Homo sapiens: one gene and its partners. The protein of the gene in region 4 interacts with the protein of the main gene of each other region in a pairwise test. Each region holds a gene or a part of one and is shown on either strand. Other genes may lie near its edges. The genes, in order: FGFR3, PRDM14, NCK2, FAM83A, CSNK1E, TRIM23 and PSMA3.

Region 1 (3,500 bases), on a different chromosome or scaffold from region 4:
CCTCCTGTGGGGGTCGCAGGCGTGCGGGAAGGGTCGGCGCAGGCCACAGGGCTCGAAGCGGGCGGTCACCGTGGAGGCTGGAGCTGCCAGCCTTGCCGAGGCGGCCCCGAGTGGAGCGCGAGCCGGGGCGGGAGCGAGCAGGGCTGGGCGTGCGGGGCGTGCAGGGCGCGCGGCCAGGGCCTTGGAGCTGGAGCTCTTGTGCCGGCCGGCATGGGACAGAGTCGTTACCTGCTCGGGGCCCGTGAACGCTCAGCCAAAAGGCCTTCTCGGCCACGCCTATGAAATTGGTGGCTCGACAGAGGTACTCGCCCCCGTCCCGCTCCGACACATTGGCCAGGCGGAGGCGCACGTCGGCCTCCACACTCTCACTGATCCAGGACTGCGGGGACAAGAGACCCGGCTCAGGCACGCCCCCGAGGCAGCCCCGCCGGGCACGAGGCAGGATGTGGGAGACCCCCAAGGTACAGATCGAGGCTGGGCTGCGTCAGCCCCAAAGGCTGCCTGGAGGAGGCGTGGAGGCACTTCACGGTGGCTGTGGTTTCACAGGATGCACGTCTCTGCCTCCACCCCAACAACCCAGCCCAGACCCTCAGACAACCTCTGGTCACTGGCCTGCCCTCCCCCGGGCTCTTGCAGAACCTGCACCCTGGACAGGGCCCGAGGCGGCCTCTCTGGGCGGGGTCTGGACTCCACCCTCGCCCTGCGCCTGCTCCCCGCCCCCAAGAGACCGTCTTCTCTCTGAACAGATGTTTCTCTTTGGGCTTTGAGTGTCGCAACCGTCCCAATTCAGTGGCCCCCACCCGGCAGCCATGGGAACAAAGCTAAGGGCTTCAGGAGGCGGGCAGACAGTGAGCTCGGGCCCCACTGCACACAGCTGACGAGAGCCAATCGGCCAGGTCGGGGCTCAGCCACCGCCTCTGAGGCCCAGAGGGGGCCTGGAGGGCTTGGCCACACTGCCCTCCTGTCCTGGGGCACCACTGCTGCCCAAGCCGCACCCACCCCCAAGAAGCCCGTGGGCAGCTCCATGTCAGGGACTTCAGTGGCTGAGGCTGGCCCTCTGCAGACACGGAAACGGGTCCCAACGCAGCTGCCTATGGCCCTGAGGTGTGGGGTGGCTGAGACTTGGCCCCACAAGCACCCCCACAGCTTCTGCCCCCGAAGCTCCAACCCCTAGACCCAAATCCTCACGCAACCCGCAGCCAAGGGGCACCCTTGGGGCCAGCCCAGGAGCCCCAGCGGCGGCACCCACGTGCACACGGTGGCCCACCTTGAGCACGGTAACGTAGGGTGTGCCGTCCGGGCCCACCTTGCTGCCATTCACCTCCACGTGCTTGAGCCACTGGATGTGGGGCTGTGCGTCACTGTACACCTTGCAGTGGAACTCCACGTCGCTGCCCAGCACCGCCGTCTGGTTGGCCGGCAGCCCCGCCTGCAGGATGGGCCGGTGCGGGGAGCGCTCTGTGGGGGCAGATGACGCTCAGGGGCCACCCCCTCCCTCACCACCACCGCCACTGCCGCCCCCACCCCCGCGCCGCCCCAGGGCCCTCACCCAGCACGTCCAGCGTGTACGTCTGCCGGATGCTGCCAAACTTGTTCTCCACGACGCAGGTGTAGTTGCCGCGGTCCGAGGGCACCACGCTTTCCATGACCAGGCTCCACTGCTGATGCCGCAGCTGCACCGGGACGCGGGCGGGTGAGTGAGCGGAGGCAGCAACCACCGCGCCTGCCAGGCCCAGAGCCACCCCGCCGCGCCCACCTTGATGCCTCCAATGCGGTGCTCGCCGCGGAACTCCCTGCCGTTCTTCAGCCAGGAGATGGAGGGAGTGGGGTTGCCAGCGGCTGGGCAGCGGAAGCGGACGGTGTTGGCGGCCGGCACGGCCAGCAGCTTCTTGTCCATCCGCTCGGGCCGTGTCCAGTAAGGGGCCCCTGCGGGCCGAGGTGCGTGTGAAGGCCATGACCCGAGTGGGAGCAGAGGCCCCTCTGAACAACCCCCTTCCCAGAGCTGCCCCTGCCCATCCCCAGCCTCAGTTTCCCGTCCTGTGTAGGAAGAGGGCGGGATGAGGTTCCCAGGAGCCTCCACATCTTGTCCCCTCCCCGGGGCTTTCTCAGAGCTGGGCCGTGTGTCCCCTCCCCTCCCCTCCAGGGTGCTCTGCCCGGACCTGTGAAGTCACAGGGCACAGGGCATTGTCCAGGGGAGCCCACCTGCCCAGAGAGGCGTGCCAGGGCCAGGCCCACCAACGGGGAGACTGAAGACCCAGGGGGCAGGCCCATCTAGTGGACAAGCCAGGACCTGGGAGCAGTTTACCAGGAGAGGAGCCCAGTCGCCTGCAGAGCCAGGAGCCTTGGAGGCAGCTGGGCAGCATGGGCCCACGGAAATCAAGACCCTACACCACCCTCTGCAGAGCTCCAAGTCTGGCGGGCACCCAGAGACGGTGGCACCCTGGAGGCCCTGCCTCCTCCCATCTCGATGTCCAGGGCTCCCACCACCCCTCTCACAGCCCAACTGGTTTTTCTCCTTCCTCAGGGCTGGTGCTGCCTTCCTGCCGGGACTCCAGGCAAGGATGGGCTGGCATTCCCCAGGAGGGAAGCAGCCCTCCCCTCAGTGAGCTCACTGCCAGCCCCCTCCAGGCACACGCCCATCAGGGGCACTGAGGCCCAGCAAGCAGCAGTGTGGACACAGGCTGGAAAGAGGCACCCCACGGTGCTGAGCTCCCTCCCAGGCCTCCTGGAGACCCCCAGGGTGAGTTCCCCCAGCTGTTTCTCTCATGGACTCAGCCTCCCTTCCTCACCTGCTTACCCCACTGGCCCAGGGACCCAGCGCACACACCATCAGTCCGCAAGTCGTAACTGCCCCCCATGTCTGTGCCACGATGACCCTCACCTGCACGCACTCCCCTCAGAGCTCCCTCCAAAACCAGAAGCCCCACCTCCCCACCCTACAACTTGGCAAAGTCCACCTGCCACCGTTCCAGGCCGGGACGCCAGGCATCGTCCCCGACTGCTCTCTCACAGCCGCAGCCCACCCACCAGCCACCCTCCTGCCAGCCACCCTGCCCGCCACTGGTTGTGGCAGGTGCCCCGGCGCCCTCACCCCGGGTCCATCCACCCCACGGCAGCCACCTGAGTGCCCTGCCCTGCTGCGCTAATGTCTGCGGGGTCCACCTCACCTATAGCCAACACCAGAGCCCCACAGGCCAGCCCTGGCCTCCTCCTGCTCCTGGAACCCCCAGGGCCCTGTGCCTCAGTCTCCCCATCAGCAACACGGTGTCCCCTTGCACCCCAGCCCTGCCACCAGGGTGGGGCATCTAGAGCCATGTCAGTGACCCAGCCCCTCCTGTATCCTGAGGGGACCAGACCTTCGGGGTGACCCCAGGGAGGTTGTTCCGGGGCCTTAGTCCCTCAGCTGCCTGTGAAGGGCAGGGCTTGGCGGTGGCAGCGGGCCCCACCCCGGCTGGCCTGAACCCTGGACCCTGCTCCTACCTGTGTCCACACCTGTGTCC
Region 2 (3,500 bases), about 53 Mb from region 4:
GTGAAGGTATTTCTCGCTTATTAGACTGGCAAAAGTGAAAACTATCCAGTATTCTGATAGTGAAAAGTTTGAGACTGCATGTTCATCAACACAAAATTGATTATATAAATTATGGCTTACTGGCCAGGCGCAGTGGCTCACGCCTGTAATCTCAGCACCTTGGGAGGCTGAGGTGGGCAGATCACCTGAGGCCAGGAGTTCGAGACCAGCCTGGCCAACATGGCGAAACCCCATCTCTACTAAAAATATAAAAACATTAGCCGGGTGTGGTGGCAGGCACCTGTAGCCCCAGTTACTCTAGAGGTTGAGGCAGGAGAATTGCTTCAACCCCAGAGGCGGAGGTTGCAGTGAGCCGAGACTGTGTCATTGCACTGCAGCCTGGGTGGCAGGAGTGAGACTCCATCCCAAAAAAAAAAAAAAAATATTGTCTTATCAAGCAAAAACCAAATTACAGAAGATGTATAGAATGCTTGCTCTCTTTGAAATTGGAGGCCGGGAGTGGTGGCTCACGCCTAATCCCAGTACTTTGGGAGGCCGAGACAGGTGGATCACGAGGTCAGGAGATCAAGACCATCGTGGCTAACATGGTGAAACCCCATCTCTACTAAAAATACAAAAAATTAGCCAGGCGTGGTGGTGGGCACCTGTAGTCCCACCTACTCGGGAGGCTGAGGCAGGAGAATGGCGTGAACCTGGGAGGCGGAGCTTGCAGTGAGCCGAGATCGCGCCACCGCACTCCAGCCTGGGTGACAGAGCGAGACTCCGTCTCAAAAAAAAAAAAAAAGAAAAGAAACTGGAGGGCTGTCAACCAGGAGGTCAGTAGATGACAGGACTGATGAGGAAGCTGGTGATAGTGAGATGATGGCTTACCCTTCAACAGACGAGGTGCTCTTACAGTACAGTGGAGGAACAATCTTTTTTTTTTTTTTTTTTTTTGAGACAGTCTCACTCTGTTGCCCAGGCTAGAGTACAATGGCATGATCTCAGCTCACTGCAACCTCCACCTCCTACGCTCAAACAATCACCCAACCTCAGCCTCCCAAGTAGCTGAGCTGAGGCTATAAGTGCATGCCACCATGCTCAGCTAATTTTTTGTATTTTTTGTAGAGATGGGCATGTGGTGCGCACCTGTGGTCCCAGCCACTCGGGAGGCTGAGACACCAGAATTGCTTAAACCCAGGAGGCAGAGGTTGCGGTGGGCCGAGATCATGCTACTGCACTCCAGCCTGGGCAACAGAGCGAGGCTCTGCCTCAAAAATAAATAAAAATAAATAAATAAACAAATACAAAGATTTGCTCTCTCCTCTGCCCCATAAGCATGCCTGGAAAGAGGTTGTGAAAGCACAGAAACCTTTCTCAGAGAAAAATTGTTTTTTCTCTTTAGTTAGTGTAATTTCCTTAAAAGTGATGTCAAAACCAAAGGCCTTCTGCTTTATCCCTGGCAAACTCTCGGTGCTTGCACCTCTCTGGTAGTTTACTTCACCTGGTGTAGAATTCCTGAGACAGTTTCGAGAGGAGTTGCCAGGGTCAAGAAACAATATTAATTATTCACAGCGTGTGAACAAAATATTAACCTCTTCATGCAAGTTCAACACGTCTCAGATAATCTGCTACTGTGCATTACCATGTTGGCTTACATGTTCATCGTCACCCCTCCTTGATTTCTAGCTCCTGGTTTCTAGCAGTGTGGAGCACACAGTAGGTACTCTGTAAGTCGTAGATAATTGTTGAGTTAATTGCACAGTACTTGTAGTTTACTCATAGCTCTGTGAGGAAGGCAGAGCAGGTATTTTGCCCATGAGCAAGATCGGGAAACTAAGATTCCAGATTTAACCAATGTTCTGTAGTCACACAGCTACCTGTTGAGAGAGCAGGACTAATTCAGGCCTCTGCCATATACCACAAACCTGTTCAGTTCCCACATTCCACATCTGAAGCAAGAGTTCTCTCAGGTCGGGTGCCGTGGCTCAAGGCTATAATCCTAGCACTTTGGGAGGCCAAGGCAGGAGGATCTGTTGGAGTTCAAGACAAGGCTGGGCAACATAGTGAGACCTCATCTCTACAAAAAAAAATTTTTTAAGTTAGCTGGCTTAGTGGCACGCACCTGTAGTCCCAGTTACTCAGGAGGCTGAGGTGGGAGGATCGCTTGAGCCTGGGAGTTCCAGGCTGCAGTGAACCGTGATTGTGCCACTGCAGTCCAGTCTGGGTAACAAATTGAGATCCCGTCTCAAAAAAAAAAAAAAGAAAAAAATTGGAAAAGAGTTCTTCTCTAACCCCAGGTAAACGCAAGGTTGAAATGGACTTGTTAGAGGAAGGTGTGATTTCAACTATATTTTTCTTTTTCACCTTAGTGTTCTACATGTGGGAAATGTTTCTCTCAATCTTCCAGCCTAAACAAACACATGCGAGTCCACTCTGGAGACAGACCATACCAGTGTGTGTATTGTACTAAGGTAAATGGAACCTCTTACTAAGGGATGTGTCCTGAGCTCTGCTTGAGTGTCTATGGATAAGAACTTGAAACAAAGCCTGGCTTAATGAGTTCTTGGTAAATGTTAGTCAAATATCAGCCCAGTCCTCATTTCCACCCCTAAATATGCTCAAGTTTGCTAAAGATGGTCAAATATAACCAACCTCCTATTGCCAAGCTGGCATTTAGAGTACATGTAATAAAATACATTCCAAATTTATGGGGACCTGATGACCTATTACATAGTATTTAAAAGCACTAGCTGAGTGTGGTGGCTCACACCTATAATCAAATTTTCCATGCATCGGTGGCTTATGCCTGTAGTCCCAGCTACTTGGGAGGCTGAGGCTGGAGAATTGCTTGAGTCCAGGAAGTGGAGGTTGCAGTGAGCCAAGATTGCACCACTGCACACTCCAGCCTGGGTGACAGAGTGAGACACTGTCTCAAAAAAAAAAGGAGGGGGTGGGGAGGCGTGGTGGCTCAAGCCCGTAATCCCAGCACTTTGGGAGGCTGAGGTGGGCAGGTGCCTGGAGATAGGGAGTTCGAGACCATCCTGGCCAGCATGGTGAAACCCCATCTCTACTAAAAATACAAAAATTAGCTGGGCATGGTGGCACGTTCCTGTAATCCCAGCTACTTGGGAGGCTGAGGCAGGAGAATCACTTGAACCCAGAGGCAGAGGTTGCAGTGAGTCAAGATTGTGCCACTGCACTCCAGCCTGAGTGGCAAAGTGAAACTCCGTCTCCAAAAAAAAAAAAAAAAAAAAATCACTATTTCATAGTATTTAAGAACACAAACATGGCCAAGTTTCAAATCCTGCCTCTGGTGCTTACCTAGCTGTGCCACCCTGAGCAAGTCCATGAACTCCTGTTAGTTTCCACATTGATAAACTGGGGAGAATAGTCTTTACCAAGTTGTTGGATAACATCAGTAAAGTATATAAAACTCTTGTAACAGTGCCTGGCATAACATAAAAGTACTACTGGAATGTTAACTGCTATTATTACTACTTTAATCTGTGAAGGATGCT
Region 3 (3,500 bases), on a different chromosome or scaffold from region 4:
TATAACCATCTTGCTAGATTCTGCAACCAAGGTTGTTTCACTTTTTTTTAATCGTTTGATGAAAATTCACTCTTCACCTATATTAAATTTCCCAAAAACTGTCTCAAAATAACTCCCTGAATCCCTTGTTATTTCTTGGTCTCTTAAAAATATTCAAGTAGCTTGTGCTTTTTATGTCAATGTCTCCAAGCTGGCTTCCATCATGCAGAGCAGTTTAAAAAAAAAAAAAAAAAGTTGTTGGGGGAGCTGCTTTCTTACCAATGCAGCAGCTCCCCCCAACCTCCCACAGACACACACAAACAGGAATACAAGCTTTTAAAGTGATTGTCCTTAAAATGAAGACAGCTGATGAGAGGGAAAGCATGAAAGAGACAGCAACTGCTCTCCTCTCCTGTAGCCAGGCTCATAAGTGACATAATTAAAATATTTGTTGACTTGCAGACATCCTTAAACACGCAACCAAAATTCTTAAGATATTAAATGGGAGACATAACCGTTAAGGAAAATCGAAGGAGACATTGATGGACTTTGTCCTCTAAGATGGGCATGGGCGTCTTTCTAGGCATCTCCCTGTGATCTCACCACTTTCTAACTTACTTTTCACTTCTCACTTCCTGGCTGCCCCCACCATTGCTGGGAAATTAAGCATGTTGAAGTAAACAATTCTTTGCCACCACATATCCTGGAACCTGCTACGTGTAGAAGTGGCCACATGAGAGGTAGTGTGACTGCAAATCTAAACCTGTGAGTTGAAAGAAACTGCCCAAATTGCAGCCCCTCTGAAACTTGGAACATGCAGGAGCTTCTCCCAACAGAGACGCCAGACTCACCGTCCTATCTCAGTCCCATCTGCTCCAGGGAGGGCTGCTCAACACTCTGATGGCCCCAGTGGCCCTCCTAACACAAAAGGGTAGGTTCGAGAAGCTGGCACAGACAACTCACTTGGAAGAGCAGCCAGTGTCAGAGTTCCCATCAGGACCTGTAGCAGCAGTCTCCCAAGAATCTACATTTGGACTTGACCTGGCCTCTCTCACAACCTCAGAAGCAGATTTCAAAGCCACCTTGGAATTCTTCAAGACCTTCCCAGATGTCATAAAAGCACAAAGGAAAAGGATTTGGTATGTCCTGCTACAAGGTTTTCAGCAAGAACCTACCTGCCTACCTTCACTTCAACAACAGCAACTCATTAAGGAAAAACAGAAGCAGCAAAAATGGCCTTGTGCAAGCTATTCCAACAGCACAAAAGTCCGGGGGCCACTTGGAAGAGTGAGAAGACACACACTCCTGTTTTCTCAGCCCCCAGTGTGGAGGAGACAAGGGTGGGGACCCACCACACAGCTACTGATGAAGAGGCACATCACACAGGCATTTACAATGGCACCTGCATGACCACTTGAGCTAATACACTGTGACTACAACAGAAAATACTCCCCCTCATCCAGTGCCACTGCAGTTCCCTCCAGCAGCGGTTCTCCCCAGGGAATGCTGGTGTTTCCTGCAGAATTGGAGACTTGGGCAGGTGGAGGACCACCAGCCTACGGAACATAGCAAGGGGGCTGGGGGAGAGGAGCAGCCAGGCCAATGGTCCTCAGTGATGACCATCCAAGGCTTCCCCTCCTCCAAGGTACCAGTTATTCATTAGGCCCTTCCAAAGTCCAGGGCCTTCCCCAACCACTTGGCTGATAAGGCGTTCCCAGAATGAACCTGTATGCAAGCTACACTCCCTATCAATGATTTTCCATCAATGTTTCTCAAATCTTACACCATAATAAAAGTTTACAGTTCTGTTTTATGTATTTTCAGATACATCTTAATGAAGGGATGGTGGCTAGCTTGGTCAGAGTCTAGCTGTGGAACCTAAGACATGGCAGCCTCAGTGCCTCCCTTTCCTTAGCGATGAAGATACAAACAGAAAGTACCACACGTTCTGTTGGTGAGGACTCAATGAGTTATTACATGGAAAGTGCTTAGAACAGTGATTACAATGTGTGTGTGTGTGTCTGTGTCCGTGTGGGAGAGAAGCTAATGTTCACTTTAAAAATACATGATTTTAGCTTGTACTTAACATGTTATCAGAAATATGAATACTACAGATGACTGGATAAAGAAAATAGACTATTCAGCCATAAAAAAACAATGAAATCATATCTTTTGCAGCAACACAGATGGAACTGGAGGCCATTATCCAGACGGAACCAGAGACTTGAAGGGTGATGGGGTAGGAAGGGGTGGATGATGAGAGATTACTCAATGGGTACAATGTATGTTATTTGAGTGATGGATACAATAAAGGTCCTGAATTCACCCTTAGGCAATTTATGTAACAAAATAACACCTGTACCCCATCACTGTATACAATGTTGTTTTTTACCTTTCCTATGGTGCTGAACACATTTTTTAAAAGGAAATGTGTTGAATACTGATATACAAAAATGTTATTTTACACTGGTAACTTCTAGAATTCAAACCACATTTTAAGATATTTGTAAAATGAACAAGGTATTTTGATGATAGATATTAGTTTTAACTGAATCTGATTTTAGTGCTCTAAAACATCATGTGCTGAGTGTCTGAAGGATGACATTACTCCTCATATTTAAAAAGGTTACACCTTTCCCAGTAAAGCATAATAATAATGACCATTATAATTATTCTACATTGTTTCCACTTTGTCTCTTTAGCTATCTCAACTTTGGAAAACAGACAGCAAATGAGGCTTAAATCATGAAAAGTGTATAGACTCACACTCCGCAACAAGGCTGCCACTAGTCGCGTGTGGCCAAGGCCAATCAAAATGCAGCGAGAGGCAGCCAAGAGGTGCAGTAAACGTATATACTATATGCTGAATTTCAAAGCCCTCACGCAAATAAAAGAATATGAGTTATCTTATTAATTACATTTTATGTTGATTACACATAGAGTTTATATATATATTGGGCAAAATATAGGATGAAAATTAATAATACTTGTTTGGTTTTACATTTTTAATGTGGCTACCAGAACATTATGATTACATCTGGGGCTTGCATTTGTGGTTCACATTGTATTTCAAGGGGTCAGCACTGCTCTTGACAATCCATCAGTTCAAATGGCATTTGCAGGGAGACAGTCCATATTAAAACACACATACGCACCATTTTCTGCAGTTAGTCTCTTCTCCTCCCATGACAGAGAGCTGGGCCCATGCTCAGTTCCATGCAAAGCTGTAGTGGGGTAGCCCTGCCATTACTGCACAGGAGAACCCTGAACCAGTCCCAGTGGAGAGAGTCTTTAAAAACAAACTGATTATAAACTTAGTTTTGTTATCACAATTAGCAAACCATCAGTGGGTGGCCACAGATGACTTGTAGCTCAGCATGTGTGTATATGGGGAAGGGGATATTTAGATGCTGGGAGAAACAGAGAGGCAGCCCAGTCGTGCAAGCCCATGACTGCCATGCTGGGGACTTGAGTCACTGACCCAAGTACGATGGAGAGCCACCGTGTGCAGGTCATGGCCA
Region 4 (3,500 bases):
CTTGCCTGAACTAGAGGAGACTGATCAAAAGAACTCTGAGGGCCACCAATCAGCTGTTCACCCAGGCCTACTCATGAAAGCTATGGGTGGTGTTCACATTTGAATTAGTTGTCCTCAAATTTATGTGATGAATCAAACCCTTATCGCTGGGTTTCTTTTCTCTTTGCCAGGAGAGGGAAGTACGGGGTTCAGTTAAGTCCAAGAGGATCAATGTCTTGTTGGGACCAGGGAGTTCTGAACATGCACCCACAGACCCTGGAGGTTGCCTGCCCTGTAAGATGCAATCCCTGGGCTTCCCCAGCTGAGAGGAGAACTGGAGTACATGGCAGAGATGCTGCTCACCAGATACCCATGACCCTTTACATTTCCCAGCATCCGTGCATCTGGGTAAGGTCAATGAGTTATAAGAGAAAGCGATGGAAATCTCCTCCAGGTCAGATCCTGGAAACATCCTGCAGAGTCTCCCAGCCTTCTCTTTCCCTGTCATGGTTATCTTAGAGGCCGTGTATTTCTCATGATGTAGCTACAATATGGAGGAGGGCCATCTGACCTACATAGGAGTTTGTTTGAGCAAGAAATGAACCTTTATTGTGTTAAGCTATTAACACAAGATGAGGGACATTTGTTACTATTGCATAGACTATCCTATCTGGGCTAATATGAGTACCCTTAGGACTCTCATTGGGGCCCCTACCTTGAGGTGACTGTCAGAGATCTGGACTTTGTCACACATCTCCTGGAAGAGCTTCACACCTCCCTGGTCCAGGAGCACACAAACGAACACCCCACGCTTGTTGGCTGCCTCTAGAATGTCACAGAAGATCTCCACATCCGTGAACACATCCATCAGGATGACCAGGACCTGGGCCAGGGCAGAGTGCTCAGTTACCAGAAAGGTCAGGGGCAGGTGCTAACTGGTTTCACCCAAACTGCCTGAGTCCCAGTGGGCCTGGGAGAGCTGTTCCCATTGGGCCAGAGGGGAGAGGATGGGGTAGAGTGGGTCTGACTGGGCAGGATTAATGGAAGGAAAAGGAAGAGCTGGAGTGGAGGCCCCTGCGCCTGTCCTGATACCATCTCTCCAGTCCCACCACCTATCTGTTGGCCCCTATGCCCATTGTGGGAGTGGGGAGTGCAGAGGAGGAAGGGAAAAGTCTAGAAAGAGAAGGAGAGCAGAGAAGAACAAGAAGAAGCATCTCAACCGGTTCCAGAAGAGGAATAAAGTTAAGGTTATGGATTCTCAGCCACTTGGAGCTAGAGGGCACACTATGGCCACTGATTTTCAAATGCTGTTAAGCCGTGGAATCCTATCCTCAAACAAAATCCCATGTGGAGGCACCGTATATAAGCGCCTAGAGCAAGCTGCTCCCCGTGGGATGGAGAAGGGAGTCACGCTCTACCCACAGCTACTGCATCATGTGTCACAGTAGAAACTGGGGAGGGGAGTTCTAGACCTTCAGTGAGCAGGAGAGACATCTGTGTTCCTCCTGCCAAGCATTCATTCTCCCTTCTTCTGTCAACAGCATCCCAATCTGACTTTAAGTAATTGCCTCCCCTCCACAATCAATGTGGTTTGGAAGGGTCTATTGCCATTCTTTGACTGGATATGGGGAGACCACATGACCAAGGCTAGACCAATGGGAGCATGGCATCCCCTGTTGGCCACAGACATTGGTCCAGAGGTGGTCACATGATCTAAGTTATTCTAATAAGAGTCAGCCCAGGACTTTAGCTGGGACTCCTGGGAAAAGGAGGTGTTCTTTCTACGAGGTTGCTTAGCTGGTATTTTATAAGCAATGGCTGCTGGCAACCATTTTTGCTACCTCTTGGGGAGAGCCTGCCTGACAATGAAGCCATCCCTGGAGAAAGCAGCCAGGAGGTAGAGACAGAGTCCCAGCATTGTCATTTGGACACCTGGTTCCAGCCATGCCTGAGACCAGTGCCACCCTTGACTTTTCCACTGTGGATGTTAATGAATGTTTCTCTTCTTCTTAAGCTTGTTTGGGTTTACTCTCTGTCACCCAGTCATGAGTCCTTTCTAATACCTTAATTGTGATATACTGACAAGCAGCTTATTAGGCAGTCATTAAAAATGTTAATTACTGCCGGGCGCGGTGGCTCACGCCTGTAATACCAACACTTTGGGAGGCCGAGGCGGGCGGATCATTTGAGATCTGGAGCTCGAGACCAGCCTGATCAACATGGTGAAAGCTCGTCTCTACTAAAAAAAAAAAAAAAAATTAGCTGGACTGGTAGTGCACGCCTATAGTCCCAGCTACTGGGGAGGCTGAGGCAAGAGAATCGCTTGAACCCAGGAGGCAGAGGTTGCAGTGAGCCGAGATCGCACCACTGCACTCCAGCCTGGGTGACAGAAAGAGACTCTGTCTCAAAATAAAAAAATAAGAAAATACATAAAAATTTAAAATGTTAATTTTCTTTCTTTCTTTCTTCTTTCTTTCTTTCTTTTCTTTCTTTTCTTCCTCTCTCTCTTTCATTTTTTTTCTGTAGACATGGGGTTTCACTATGTTGCCCAGGCTGGTCTCGAACTGTTGGGCTTAAGCAATCCTTAAGCCTCAGCCTCCCAAATTGCTGGGATTACAGGAGTGAGCCACCCCACCTGCTCCATTATAATCTTATGGGAGCACTGTCATAGATGTGGTCTGTTAGTAACCAAAATGTCATTATTCCGTACATGATTGTAGGTAAGCCCAAAGCAAAAACTAACAGTCATGTTAGGATGGGGGATGTGAACCCAGAAAATAAAACAGGGCTCAGTTAATTTAGAAAGTTTATTTTGCCAAGGTTGAGGACATGCCCGAGGAAGTCCTGACGACATGTGCCCAAGGTGGTCGGGGCACAGCTTGATTTTATACATTTTAGGGAGACATGAGACATCAATTAATAGATGTAAGAAGTACTTTGGTTCAATCTGGAAAGGTGGGACAACTGGAAGCAAAGGCAGGAAGACTCAAAGCCAGGAGGGAGCATCCAGGCCACAGATAAGTAAGACAAAAACTGTTGCATTCTTTTGAGTTTCTGATTAGTCTTTCCAAAGGAGGCATCAGATATGCATCTATCTCAGTGAGCAGAGCGGTGACTTTGAATAGAATGGGAGGCAGGTTTGCCCTAAGCAGTTTCCAGCTTGAGTTTTCCTTAGTGATTTTGGGGGCCAAAGATACTTTCCTTTCACAGGGAATACGGCCATTCCCTTTCTTCAAGATTACCTGTAATAATAAGTTTCCACTATCTTTCTAATCATTGCAATATATTTTTTAAAACCACCGCCATCTGGGAAGTAGCCAAGGAAAGAGAGGTGTCTTACTGGCAGGCCAAACTGATGGCTGGTATCCACTTGGAATCAACTTTCTGTGATGTGGATGGATAGCTGGACAGGGGAGGGAACTCCTCAGAGATTGCTCACCCTGGGCAGGAAATCGGAAAAGATGTTCTAATAATGAGGCTGTGATCATTAGAACCATGGCCCTGTAATCACACAATTAATT
Region 5 (3,500 bases), on a different chromosome or scaffold from region 4:
GCATGGTGGTGTGTTCCTGTAATCCCAGCTGCTTGGGAGGCTGAGGCAGGAGAATCGCTTGAACCCAGGAGGCAGAGATTGGAGTGAGCTGAGATCATGCCACTGCCCTCCAGTGGCCACCACATCCGGCAAGGCAGATGGGACCATTTCCTTCATCCAGAACGTTCTGTGGACATCACTGCTCTAGGTTCCTCCCTTATGGAGTCTCACAAGACTGTCTAGCCAGCAAGATCTCTTTTCCAACCAGGCCAGGAGCACCTCTCCACCCACTGCTGCTGGTCTGACCGCCTTCCTGGAAGTCCCTCTTGAGGCAGGCCCTGGAGTTAGAAGCTGGGCAGAGGCACCCACAGCCTTATCCTTTGCCAATCTCTGACTCAATGCCACGGCCACTGTAGTGAGCTGAACCACCTCCAGCAGTCCCCTGGCAGAAGCACCTGGAAAACATGCAATGGGAACCTTCACCCTGAGGCCAGGCCCTTCCCATGCTACCCAACAGTAGACAGGACACCCTGTGTTGTTGGCTGCACCGGGGTGCTGGGATCTGTGGATCCCTGGGGCCTGGAAGCCACTCTCAGCACATACAGCCACTGTGTTCCGAGGTCCAGTCAGCTGGCCGGGAAGGAATTCAACACAGCCAAGGACAGAGGTCCATATGATGACGGGTGGATGCTCGTGTGACTTTGCTGACCTTTTATGTTTTCTATGGGCAATAAAGGCCAAGAGAGCTCCCTGCTGTGTGTTTCTTGCGTCCTATGGGTTGGATGGGACCATGGAGAGTCGCCCACTTCTTGCCTCGGGGCTGGCAATGGCCTGAGCCTGCTGGGCTCACAAAGGGCAGGGGCTCCAGCCCTCTGCTTGGCTGCTGGCTGCAGGGCTCCACACCTTGGAGTGAGTCACTCAGCCTCTGTATCCCAAGCATGGAAATGAGATTGACCTGCCTCACAGGGTTGATGTGACTCTGCCCGCAGAAGGTTCGGCACGGAGGTGCCACAGCTCGTGTTCCTCCCCAGGCTTTGCTGTGGCTCTGGCTGAGTCACTGTTGGCCAGCCTGCAACCGAGTGGGAGCCCAGGGTGAGGACCGGAGGTCAGGAGTTAGAGCCCCGGTGGTCCCAGGCCTGCCTGAGAGGCTTCTGGGTGGGAGGATGGGAAGATGCATCTTCTAGAGTGTTCTAAGGCAAGACTCTGAACAGTGACCTCTTGGGGTGCAGAGAGCAGAGTGGGACTAGGTGGCAGAGGCCTGGGTTCAGACCCTAGCTCTGCCCTGAGCTGTGCAACCCCGGGCAGGTCACAAGGCCTCTCTGGGCCTTGGTGCCTCACTAAGATTCAGGGATCATTCTGGTCCTAGCCACTACTTCCTGGAGTTGCTTAAAGACAGGGCCCACCCCCACCTCTTGGCCAGTCTCCTGGGAGAGACATGGGTTGCAGGAACCACACCCTGTGCCCATGAGCAGGCCCCCAACTCAGCCCAGAGCTCTCTCCTCCACAGATGCGGCCCCCTTCCTGCCAGCCCCCTGCCCTTCCCTGTGGACGGCCCCAGGATGAACTAGGTAACGCAGTCGGGCGCTGCCCCCACATATGCTCTTCTCTGGCCCCTTCTCACTTCCTCCTGCACCAGGGGCGGCAGTGGCTGGACAGCAGGGCACCTGGGGGCTTAGGGTACCCCTTCTGCTCCAGCTTTGCCTGCTGGGCCTCTTCTTCCTCCGTGGGGAACGTGGCCCCATTTTCTTCTCCAGCTCCCCTTGAGCTTCTGTCCCAAGGCAGGCGGTGTCTGTGGGTTCCCTGGGCCTCCTGGCTGTGGCCTCCACTGCACCTGCCAGAAGCCATTGCCAGGTCCCGGCAGGGGGAAGGACAGCTCCCTGATGAGAAGAGCCCCTGGCTAGGTACCGGGAGAGCTGGTCTGAGTCCTAGCCCAGCCTTCCACTAGTTTTGTGACTCTGGGCCTGTTCTTTTCCCCCTCTGGACACCCCTAGCCAGTCTGCTAGAGGCCTCTAAACAGCTTTCCTGCTCGGTTTAGCAACCTTGAGTAGTTAAGGGCTCTTGGTACACAGAGGGGGGCCAGGGCAGGCCCAGCCCCAGGTCAGGAGGGCCAAGAGGTGCTCTTGATCATCCTGGGCGCATTAGTTGTCCTTTCTCTGGCTCCATCCCAGGAGAGCAGGGCAGACTGACCTCCCTCTGCCCCCAGACTCCTGCTTTCTCCTTCCTCTGGTGGTTGTGTGGCTTCGTGTCTCTGTGCTGTGTGATTGTGGGTCTTGGCTTCCCGCGCTTGTCAGGGAGGCTGGAGCAGAAGGTTTCTGAGATATCCACCTGGCCTCCCTCCCCTTCTGTGCCCTGCAGGGCTGCTGGGCCCAGAGCACCCTGGCCTCTGGGGCTGACTGGTGTCTTTTCTTGCATCCCTGCAGGGTGCAGCCCGGAATCCCGAGGATGTGGACCGGGAGCGGCGAGAACACGAACGCGAGGAGAGGATGGGGCAGCTACGGGGGTCCGCGACCCGAGCCCTGCCCCCTGGCCCACCCACGGGGGCCACTGCCAACCGGCTCCGCAGTGCCGCCGAGCCCGTGGCTTCCACGCCAGCCTCCCGCATCCAGCCGGCTGGTGAGCAGGGACTCAGGCAGTGGGCTGGGTTCAGGGTGGGTGGGGGGCTCTGTTTGTGCCTACTCTGAGGGTGGCTTCCCACTCTCCCTCCAGGCAATACTTCTCCCAGAGCGATCTCGCGGGTCGACCGGGAGAGGAAGGTGAGTATGAGGCTGCACAGGGGTGCGCCCGCCAACGTCTCCTCCTCAGACCTCACTGGGCGGCAAGAGGTCTCCCGGATCCCAGCCTCACAGGTGAGCTGCCCCCCTGCCAGTCCCTCTGGGCCTCAGAACTGAGTTAGAGACCCCCCAGTGGGAGGTCAGGCCGTGGCTCTGTTCTTCCCTTTCCATCGACGCTGCTTGCCTTGGAGTGAACCCCTTCTGTAGAGCCAGGACTTGGCCTCATTTAATCCTCTGAGGTCTGATGAGCCCTCTTGAGCAAAGTCATTCACCAAGGCTCAGGGCAGTAACATTCCCTGGCAAGTGGCACAGCTGGGCTCCAGTCCTCGCTGCCAGGGGCCCAGCCAGGGTGGGCAGCAGGGGCTCAGAGATGAGGTGTTGCTGCTCCCTGACATCAGGGAGCCCCCAGGAGCCCCTGTGAGCATTGGCAAGAGCATGGGGTGTAGGGGCAGTGAGGTCCCATCCTCTTTGGGGCTATGTTTGGATGGGGACACTTGGGAAGGGGGAATCTGTAGTTGCCCAGGGCAGGTGGCCTGGCAGAGGTGGGTGGGAGCCCTGCCCTCGTCCTCCTGCCTGTGGGCGAGGAGGGAGTCCTGCGAGAGAACCCTCATTGGCCATCTACTTAGGTAGCAGGTTTGCCTCCCTGGGCAACATTCTTAGCTACAGACAGGGACATCTTAGAGTCACTGGAATCACACAGGCCTTCCCTCAGCTTGAGGGGCTGCCTGGAGGTGGGGGTGGGGGTACACC
Region 6 (3,500 bases), on a different chromosome or scaffold from region 4:
CTGTTGGTTTGTATGTCTCATCTTTATGCCAGTACCACATAGTTTTCATTATTGTAGCTGATATGGCTTGGATCTATGTTCCTGCCCAAATCTCATTTCCAGTTGTAATCCCCAATGTTGAAATGGGGCCTGGTTGGAGGTGACTGGATCATGGGGGCAGTTTCTCATGAATGGTTTAGTATCATCCCCCTTGGTACTGTCTTTGCCATAATAGGTGAGTTCTCATGAGATCTGGTCGTTTAAAAGTGTGTGGCACCTCCCCCACCCTCTCTCTTGCTCCTGCTCCTGCCATGTGAAATGCCTCACTCCCTCTTTGCTTTCCACCATGATTGTAAGTTTCCTGAGGCTTTCCCTGAAGCCAAGCTGATGCCAGCATCATGCTTCCTGTACTGCCTGTGGAACTGTGAGCCAATTAAACTTTTCTTTATAAATTACCCAGTCTCAGGTATTTCTTTATAGCAGTGCAAAAACAGAACAATACATTAGCTTTGTAATATATTTTGAAGTAAGGAAGTGTGAGTCCTCCAACTTTTTTCTTTTTCAAAATTGTTTTGGCTATTCAGGGTCACTTGAGCTTCCTTATAAATTTTAGCTTAATTTTTTCTATCTCCACAAAAAACATGATTGGGATTTTGATAGGGATTGCATTGAATCTATATAAATTACCTGGGCTGTTATTCATATCTTAATATTTTATGTCTTTCAATCCATGGACATGGAATGTCTATTTATGTCTTAATTTATTTTAGCAATATTTGTAGTTTTTAGTGTACAAGTCTTTCACCATCTTGGTTAGGTGTACGCCTACATATTAGGTTGGTGCAAAAGTAATAGTGGTTTTTGCCATTAAAAGTACTGGCAAAAGCCGCAGTTGCTTTTGCACCAACATAGTATCTTAAGTCTTTCACCATCTTGGTTGAGTTTATTCCTAAGTATCTTAAACTTTTTTTTCTGTACATGTTCAGAGAAACTTCTTTAGTCATAAACTATAAAAATGATCCCTGAAAGTATAATTTTGATGCTATTTTAAGTAGAATTGTTTCCTTAATTTCCTTTTGGGATTTTTATCATTAATGTATAGAAATGCAACTGATTTTCATGTTGATTTTATATCCTGAAACTTTGTTGACTTTATTCTAATAGGTCTTTTTGTGTGGACTCTTCAGGGTTTTCTACATACAAGATCATGTCATCTGTGAAGAGATATAATTTTACATCTTCCTTTACAATTTGGATGTCTTTTATTATTCTTCTTGCCTAATTGCTCTGTGGGCATCTTCTTGTTCTTTATCTTAGAGAAAAAGCTTTCAGTTTTTTGAGTATGATGTTAGCTGTGGGCATTTCTTATATGGTGTATGTTAACTGAGGCAGTTTCCTGCTACTCCTAGTTTGTTGAATGTTTTTATTATGAAAGGGTATTGAATTTTGTTAAATGCTTTTTCTGCAACTATTGAGATGATTACGTGCTTTTTTTCTCTCATTCTGTGTATTATGCTGATTGATGATGAATAATTCTTGCCTTCCAGTTATAAAGCCCATTTGGTCATGGCGTACAATCCCTTTAATATGTGTTTTTTTTTTTTTTGAGGCGGAGTTTCGCTCTTGTTGCCCAGGCTGGAGTGCAATGGCGCGATCTCGGCTCACTGCATTCTCCACCTTCCGGGTTCAAGCGATTCTTCTGCCTCAGCCTCCTTGTAGCTGAGATTACAGGCGTGCGCCACCATGCCTGGGTAATTTTGTATTTTTAGTAGAGACGGGGTTTCTCTATGTTGGTCAGGCTGGTCTCGAACTCCTAACCTCAGGTGATCCACCCCCAACCTCGGCCTCCCGAAGTGCTGGGATTACAGGCATGAGCCACCACGCCCGGCCTAATGTGTTGTTGAATTCAGTTTGCTAGTATTTTGTAGTTTCCTCCTGGTTGCACCTCATCCTCACTATGTTGGATATGGGGAAGGGCAGGGATGAGTGCACAGAATGCCCCAAATTTTATTACCCCTTTCACTGGAATGCCTTCTTGGTTTTATGGCCTGGGTGCTGTAGTTTCTTAACTGTTCTCTAGAGTTCTCACAGAAGTAGTTCTGTTCCATATATTGTTTTATTTCTGAGGTGTATAACTGGACTTAAGTATAGATTTGGAGCCATAATATACATGGTAATTAAAGCTCATGAAGAGAATGAAAATATGTAGAATGAGAAGGAGGCCTCATATAGACCCTCAAGAATACCAACATTTAAGAGCTGGATTAAAGAAAAATTAGAAGGAACATCCAAAAATGGGATAAAACCAAACCAGGAAAAGTTTGTATCATAAAATCCAAGCAAAGAGTGCTCAAAGGAGTAAGCAAAAATAACACATATATTTTGGGAACTGTTGTAAGGACTTTTATATGTATTCTTAAAAATTAATCCTTTCAAGAATCCTATGTAAATTTTGTACTATTTTAATCCTCCTTTTATGAGATGAAAGAAGTGAAGCAGAGAAATCATGCAGCTAGTAATATATAAAAATGTTCATTATAGCATTATTTGTAATATCATAAAATCAGAAATTACCTAAAATCTATCAGTTGGGGGTTTAGTTAAATTGTGGTTTATGAAATGTAAAGAAGCCATTAAAAGAAAAAGGTTGGTCAATATGTATTGACAGGATTCCATAATATACTGTTGAGTGAAACACATTAGTTTCAATGTGTGGGTAATACTTTTTTAAAAAAAAATTTGTTTTGTTTGTGTATGTTGGCCAGTATGTGCATGGAAAGTGTCTGGAGGGATATACATCAGATTCATAGTAGAAATTTCTGGGAATTGAGCAGCACTTTTTCATTTTAATTGATTTACCCTTATTGTGATTTTTTTAGTATAGCATAAAAACATGTTTAAGATTTAGAGGATTCATTTGAGTTAGAAAATCTGAGAAAATTAAGTGGGTATGTATATTCTGTTATACAAAGACAAAGTGGTCAGTTTTACTAAGGCAAGATTTAGCCATGGGGAAGGATTTCATCTTCTTGAGATCAGACTCAGTATTTTGAGGAATACAATTCAGATTGCAATGGTTGAGGAATGAATAGGAGATGTAGAAATAATAAAGGTGCTAAATGCTATTACTTTCTAACTGCATGTCAAACATATTTAAAAATATTTAAATTGTAGGATAATCGAGTTCACATTGGACCAAAAATGGAAATTCGGGTCGTTACGTTAGGATTGGATGGTGCTGGAAAAACTACTATCTTGTTTAAGTTAAAACAGGATGAATTCATGCAGCCCATTCCAACAATTGGTAAGTATGAATATTGGTTTTTACCTTAATAGACAAACCCTAGCTTACAGCCAAGTTCTTGGGGTCTTATTTGATACTGATCTGTCATGGTGGTGGGCTCTTTTCTGGCTCTAAGATATCAGCATCTCAGAGAAAAAATGCAAGATTGTATGACTATGGGATTGAAATGTGGATGGGGATAAAAAGAAGAAACAGAGTATTGGTGGGACAGTTGGAA
Region 7 (3,500 bases), on a different chromosome or scaffold from region 4:
TTTAACCAGGTATTACATGTCTCCTTTTATTTTATATATTTTTGGCGATTAGGCTTTGTTATGTTACTTTGGTACAAATTAGTATATGTCCCCAAATCTCAATTTATTCATTTCCAGATCTCTTTCTAGGCCAGATGCTTTCCATGAGCCCCAGTCCTATATTTCTCGTTGATTCCAGGATTATCCACTTAGATTTTCCATGTTGCAGAGTGTATAAATCACATTCATTATCATCTTTTTGTTTTCCATTTTCAAATTCTTGATTTGTATCATAGGCTTCCTCAGCCATTAGGTTTGTGACCTTGTTATTTTTTATTTCTCATACATCTTGTGTTTTAAATGTCTTATGCAATTAGTCACATGTTCGATTCAGCAAAGATTTTTTCTATGTCTGTTTCTGTTTTGAGACCTGAGTCTCACTCTGTCACCTAGGCTAGAGTGCAGTGGCACGATCTTGGCTCACTGCAACCTCCGCCTCCTGGGTTCAAGTGATTCTCTTGCCTCAGCCTCCCCAGTAGCTGGGATTACAGGCATGTGCCACCATGCCCGGATAATTTTTGCATTTTTAGTAGAGACGGGGTTTTGCCACGTTGGCCAGGCTGGTCTCAAACCCCTGGCCTCAAGTGATCCGCTCACCTCGGACTCCCAGAGAGTAGCCCCAGTCCTATATTTCTCGTTGATTACAAAGAGCTGGGATTATAGGCGTGAGTCACTGTGGCCAGCCTAAATACGATTTTAAAAAGTCAGATTTATGCAAATATGAGGAAATATCTTTAAAAAATTGAAACCTTAAAAACGAATGTGTTTTTTCCTGAATGAAGAAAAAATGCAGCCGGGCGTGGTGGCTCACGCCTGTAATCCCAGCACTTTGGGAGGCTGAGGCGGGCGGATCACCTGAGGTCAGGAGTTTGAGACCAGCCTGGCCAACATGGTAAAACCCTGTCTCTACTAAAAAATAACAAAATACAAAAATTAGCCGGGTGTGATGGCACACGTCGTAGTTTCAGCTACTTGGGAGGCTGAGGCAGGAGAATCACTTGAACCTGGCAGGTGGACGTTGCAGTGAGCCAAGATTGCACCACTGCACTCCAGCCTAAGCAACAGAGACTCTGTCTCAGAAAAAGCTAGGATTTTAAAAATGAGACGTAGTTTCACTCTTGTTGCCCAGGCTGGAGTGCAATGGCACAATGTTGGCTCACCGCAACCTCTGCCTCCCAGGTTCAAGCAATTCTCTCAGCCTCCCAAGTAGCTGGGATTACAGACATGCACCACCATGGCCCGCTAATTTTGTATTTTTAGTAGAGACAGGGTTTCTCCATGTTGGTCAGGCTGGTCTCGAACTCCTGACCTCAGGTGATCCGCCTGCCTCAGCCTCCCAAAGTGCTGGGATTACAGGCATGAGCCACGGCGCCCGGCCTAAAAGTTCTTCTTTTTAAAGATGTATTAACCTGTCCTTTGATACTACACCCAAAGTGAACAAATGCTAGTTTCTTATTTTAAAAAAAAATGTTTATTTATTTTAAAAAAGAGGCATGGTCTCACTCACTATGTTGCCTCGGCTGGTCTTGAACTTTTGGGCTCAAGTAATCCTCCTGCCTTGGCCTCCCAAAGTGATGGGATTACAGGTGTGAGTCACTGCGCCTGGCTTATTATTCCTTTTTTTTAAAAAAAACTTTTTTTGGGGGCAGGACATAGGATCTCGCTTTGTCACCCAGGCTGGAGTGCAGTGGTGTGATTACAGCTTACTGCAGACTCGACCTCCTGGTCTCGAGCTATTCTCCTCCCTCAGCCCCACAAGGTAGTTGGGACTACAGGCATGTGCCACCACGCCTGGCAAATTTTTTGTAGAGACAGGGTTTCACCATGTGGCCCAGGCTGGTCTCAAACTCCTGAGCCCAAGTGATCCGCCTGCTTAGGCTTCCCAAAGTGCTGGTATTATAGGTGTGAGCCACCGCACCCAGCCGAAGTCTTTGAATTCTTATGAAAATAATTTTGACCTCGAAGACTGCCTGAAAGGATTTCAGAGATTTCCAGATTTTCAAGAATGTTTTAAACAGTGTGGAAGATGTTGAGTTGAGATAATTAAGACAGGCTTCCTGCTGGGCGTGAGCCACGCCTGTAATCCTAGCACTTTGGGAGGCTGAGGCAGGTGTATTGCTTGAGCTCAGGAGTTCGAGACCAGCCTGGGCAACATGGTGAAATCCCGTCTCTACTGAAAATACAAAAAATTAGCCGGGCATGGCAGTGCGCGCCTGTAATCCCAGCTACTTGGGAGGTTGAGACAGGAGAATCACTTGAACCCGGGAGATGGAGGTTGCAGTGAGCCAAGATCACGCCACTGTACTCCAGCTGGGGCAACAGAGCGAGACTCCATCTCCAAAAAAAAAAAAAAAATAGGGACAGAGTTTCAAAATGTTGGCCTGGCTGGTCTTGAACTCCTGGCCTCAGGCAAGCCTTTCACTTGGGCCTTCCAAAGTCCTGAGGTTACATTCTGACCTGTACTGCTTGAGTTCAACTAAGTTTGCAAACCTTTTGGGGAAATTCATTTAAATAGGCAGTAGTGAAGAGGAAATGTATTCTAGCATCCAGGATAACCTCAAAGACATGGAATCAAAAATGAACATGAGGTTTTTGAAGGTTGACAGTGAGGTAACCAGTAGAGTACAGAATTTATAACAGGAAATTGAATATGCTCAGGGGGTTCTGCCAGACCCTTAGGAGTTTAAACTTGCAAGGGGAGCCATGGAAGACACCTAAAGTGTTGGGGAAGGAGTGTCAGAAATTCTTAGAAAATTTGTTGTGTGCATCTGTTGTTCATTTTTCTGGGAGGAAATGCCATAGTTTCATCAGATTTTAAGAGGCCTGTGAATAACACAATTCCCCTGCTTTTTAGATTGTGGATCCCTTTTTAGATTCTGACTATGGCAAAATGAAACACAGCTAGGAATTAGGCTGGTCTTAGATTAAACGGATTAGAGAAGTAGAAAAGATGGTGTAGTAATCTAGGCCTGAAATTATAAGGATCCCAATGCTGGTATAATTATTGTAAAGAAGTGGACATGAAGGAAATTTTGAAGAAAAAAATTAATAGTAAATAGAAGCTCAACATGGAGGATGTAGAGCTTGGTGATGCTATTATCCAAAACAGAGAAGTTGTGCCGGTAGTCCCAGCTACTGAGGCTGAGGTGAGAGGATTACTTGAGCCTCAGACTTCAATTCAATCTTGGGCAGCATGGCAAGACTCCATTTCTTTAAAATTAAAAAAAAGAAGAAAGAGAAAGTTGAGATAATTTTACCAGAAAACTGTACAATCAAGCATTGCTTATTTTGTCTCTATTGTTTCCGATCAGAACTACCTTTATCAAAAAGGAATAGAAGAATAAAGTGTAACACATTTTCATCTTGAAATGGCAACAAGTAATTTCTCCACATTTTACTTGAGGTTGTGTGTGTGTGTGTTTGAGACAGGGTCTCACTCTGTTGCACAGACTGGTGTGCAG

The links.
Region 1: the proteins of FAM83A (region 4) and FGFR3 interact in binary tests that used the Homo sapiens proteins (3 or more experiments, as listed by UniProt).
Region 2: the proteins of FAM83A (region 4) and PRDM14 interact in binary tests that used the Homo sapiens proteins (3 or more experiments, as listed by UniProt).
Region 3: the proteins of FAM83A (region 4) and NCK2 interact in binary tests that used the Homo sapiens proteins (3 or more experiments, as listed by UniProt).
Region 5: the proteins of FAM83A (region 4) and CSNK1E interact in binary tests that used the Homo sapiens proteins (3 or more experiments, as listed by UniProt).
Region 6: the proteins of FAM83A (region 4) and TRIM23 interact in binary tests that used the Homo sapiens proteins (3 or more experiments, as listed by UniProt).
Region 7: the proteins of FAM83A (region 4) and PSMA3 interact in binary tests that used the Homo sapiens proteins (3 or more experiments, as listed by UniProt).

What each region holds. Positions count from the first base shown.
Region 1 is NC_000004.12:1,799,793-1,803,292, reverse strand, and holds part of FGFR3 (fibroblast growth factor receptor 3 isoform 1 precursor), read right to left. Parts: coding exon 3,481-3,500; intron 1,927-3,480; coding exon 1,757-1,926; intron 1,674-1,756; coding exon 1,550-1,673; intron 1,459-1,549; coding exon 1,268-1,458; intron 380-1,267; coding exon of another isoform or gene 229-379; intron 1-228.
Region 2 is NC_000008.11:70,054,253-70,057,752, reverse strand, and holds part of PRDM14 (PR domain zinc finger protein 14), read left to right. Parts: intron 1-2,351; coding exon 2,352-2,453; intron 2,454-3,500. UniProt on the Homo sapiens protein: Transcription factor that has both positive and negative roles on transcription. Required for the maintenance of embryonic stem cell identity and the reacquisition of pluripotency in somatic cells.
Region 3 is NC_000002.12:105,751,412-105,754,911, reverse strand, and holds part of NCK2 (cytoplasmic protein NCK2), read right to left. Parts: intron 1-3,500. UniProt on the Homo sapiens protein: Adapter protein which associates with tyrosine-phosphorylated growth factor receptors or their cellular substrates. Maintains low levels of EIF2S1 phosphorylation by promoting its dephosphorylation by PP1.
Region 4 is NC_000008.11:123,189,165-123,192,664, reverse strand, and holds part of FAM83A (protein FAM83A), read right to left. Parts: intron 863-3,500; coding exon 695-862; intron 1-694. UniProt on the Homo sapiens protein: Involved in mitochondrial maintenance during adipogenesis. May be acting by playing a role in the maintenance of normal mitochondrial function.
Region 5 is NC_000022.11:38,293,434-38,296,933, reverse strand, and holds part of CSNK1E (casein kinase I), read left to right. Parts: intron 1-2,399; coding exon 2,400-2,592; intron 2,593-2,685; coding exon 2,686-2,825; intron 2,826-3,500. Other genes in the region: TPTEP2-CSNK1E (casein kinase I), read left to right, coding at 2,400-2,592, 2,686-2,825.
Region 6 is NC_000005.10:65,596,834-65,600,333, reverse strand, and holds part of TRIM23 (E3 ubiquitin-protein ligase TRIM23), read left to right. Parts: intron 1-3,153; coding exon 3,154-3,283; intron 3,284-3,500.
Region 7 is NC_000014.9:58,247,843-58,251,342, forward strand, and holds part of PSMA3 (proteasome subunit alpha type-3), read left to right. Parts: intron 1-3,500. UniProt on the Homo sapiens protein: Component of the 20S core proteasome complex involved in the proteolytic degradation of most intracellular proteins. This complex plays numerous essential roles within the cell by associating with different regulatory particles.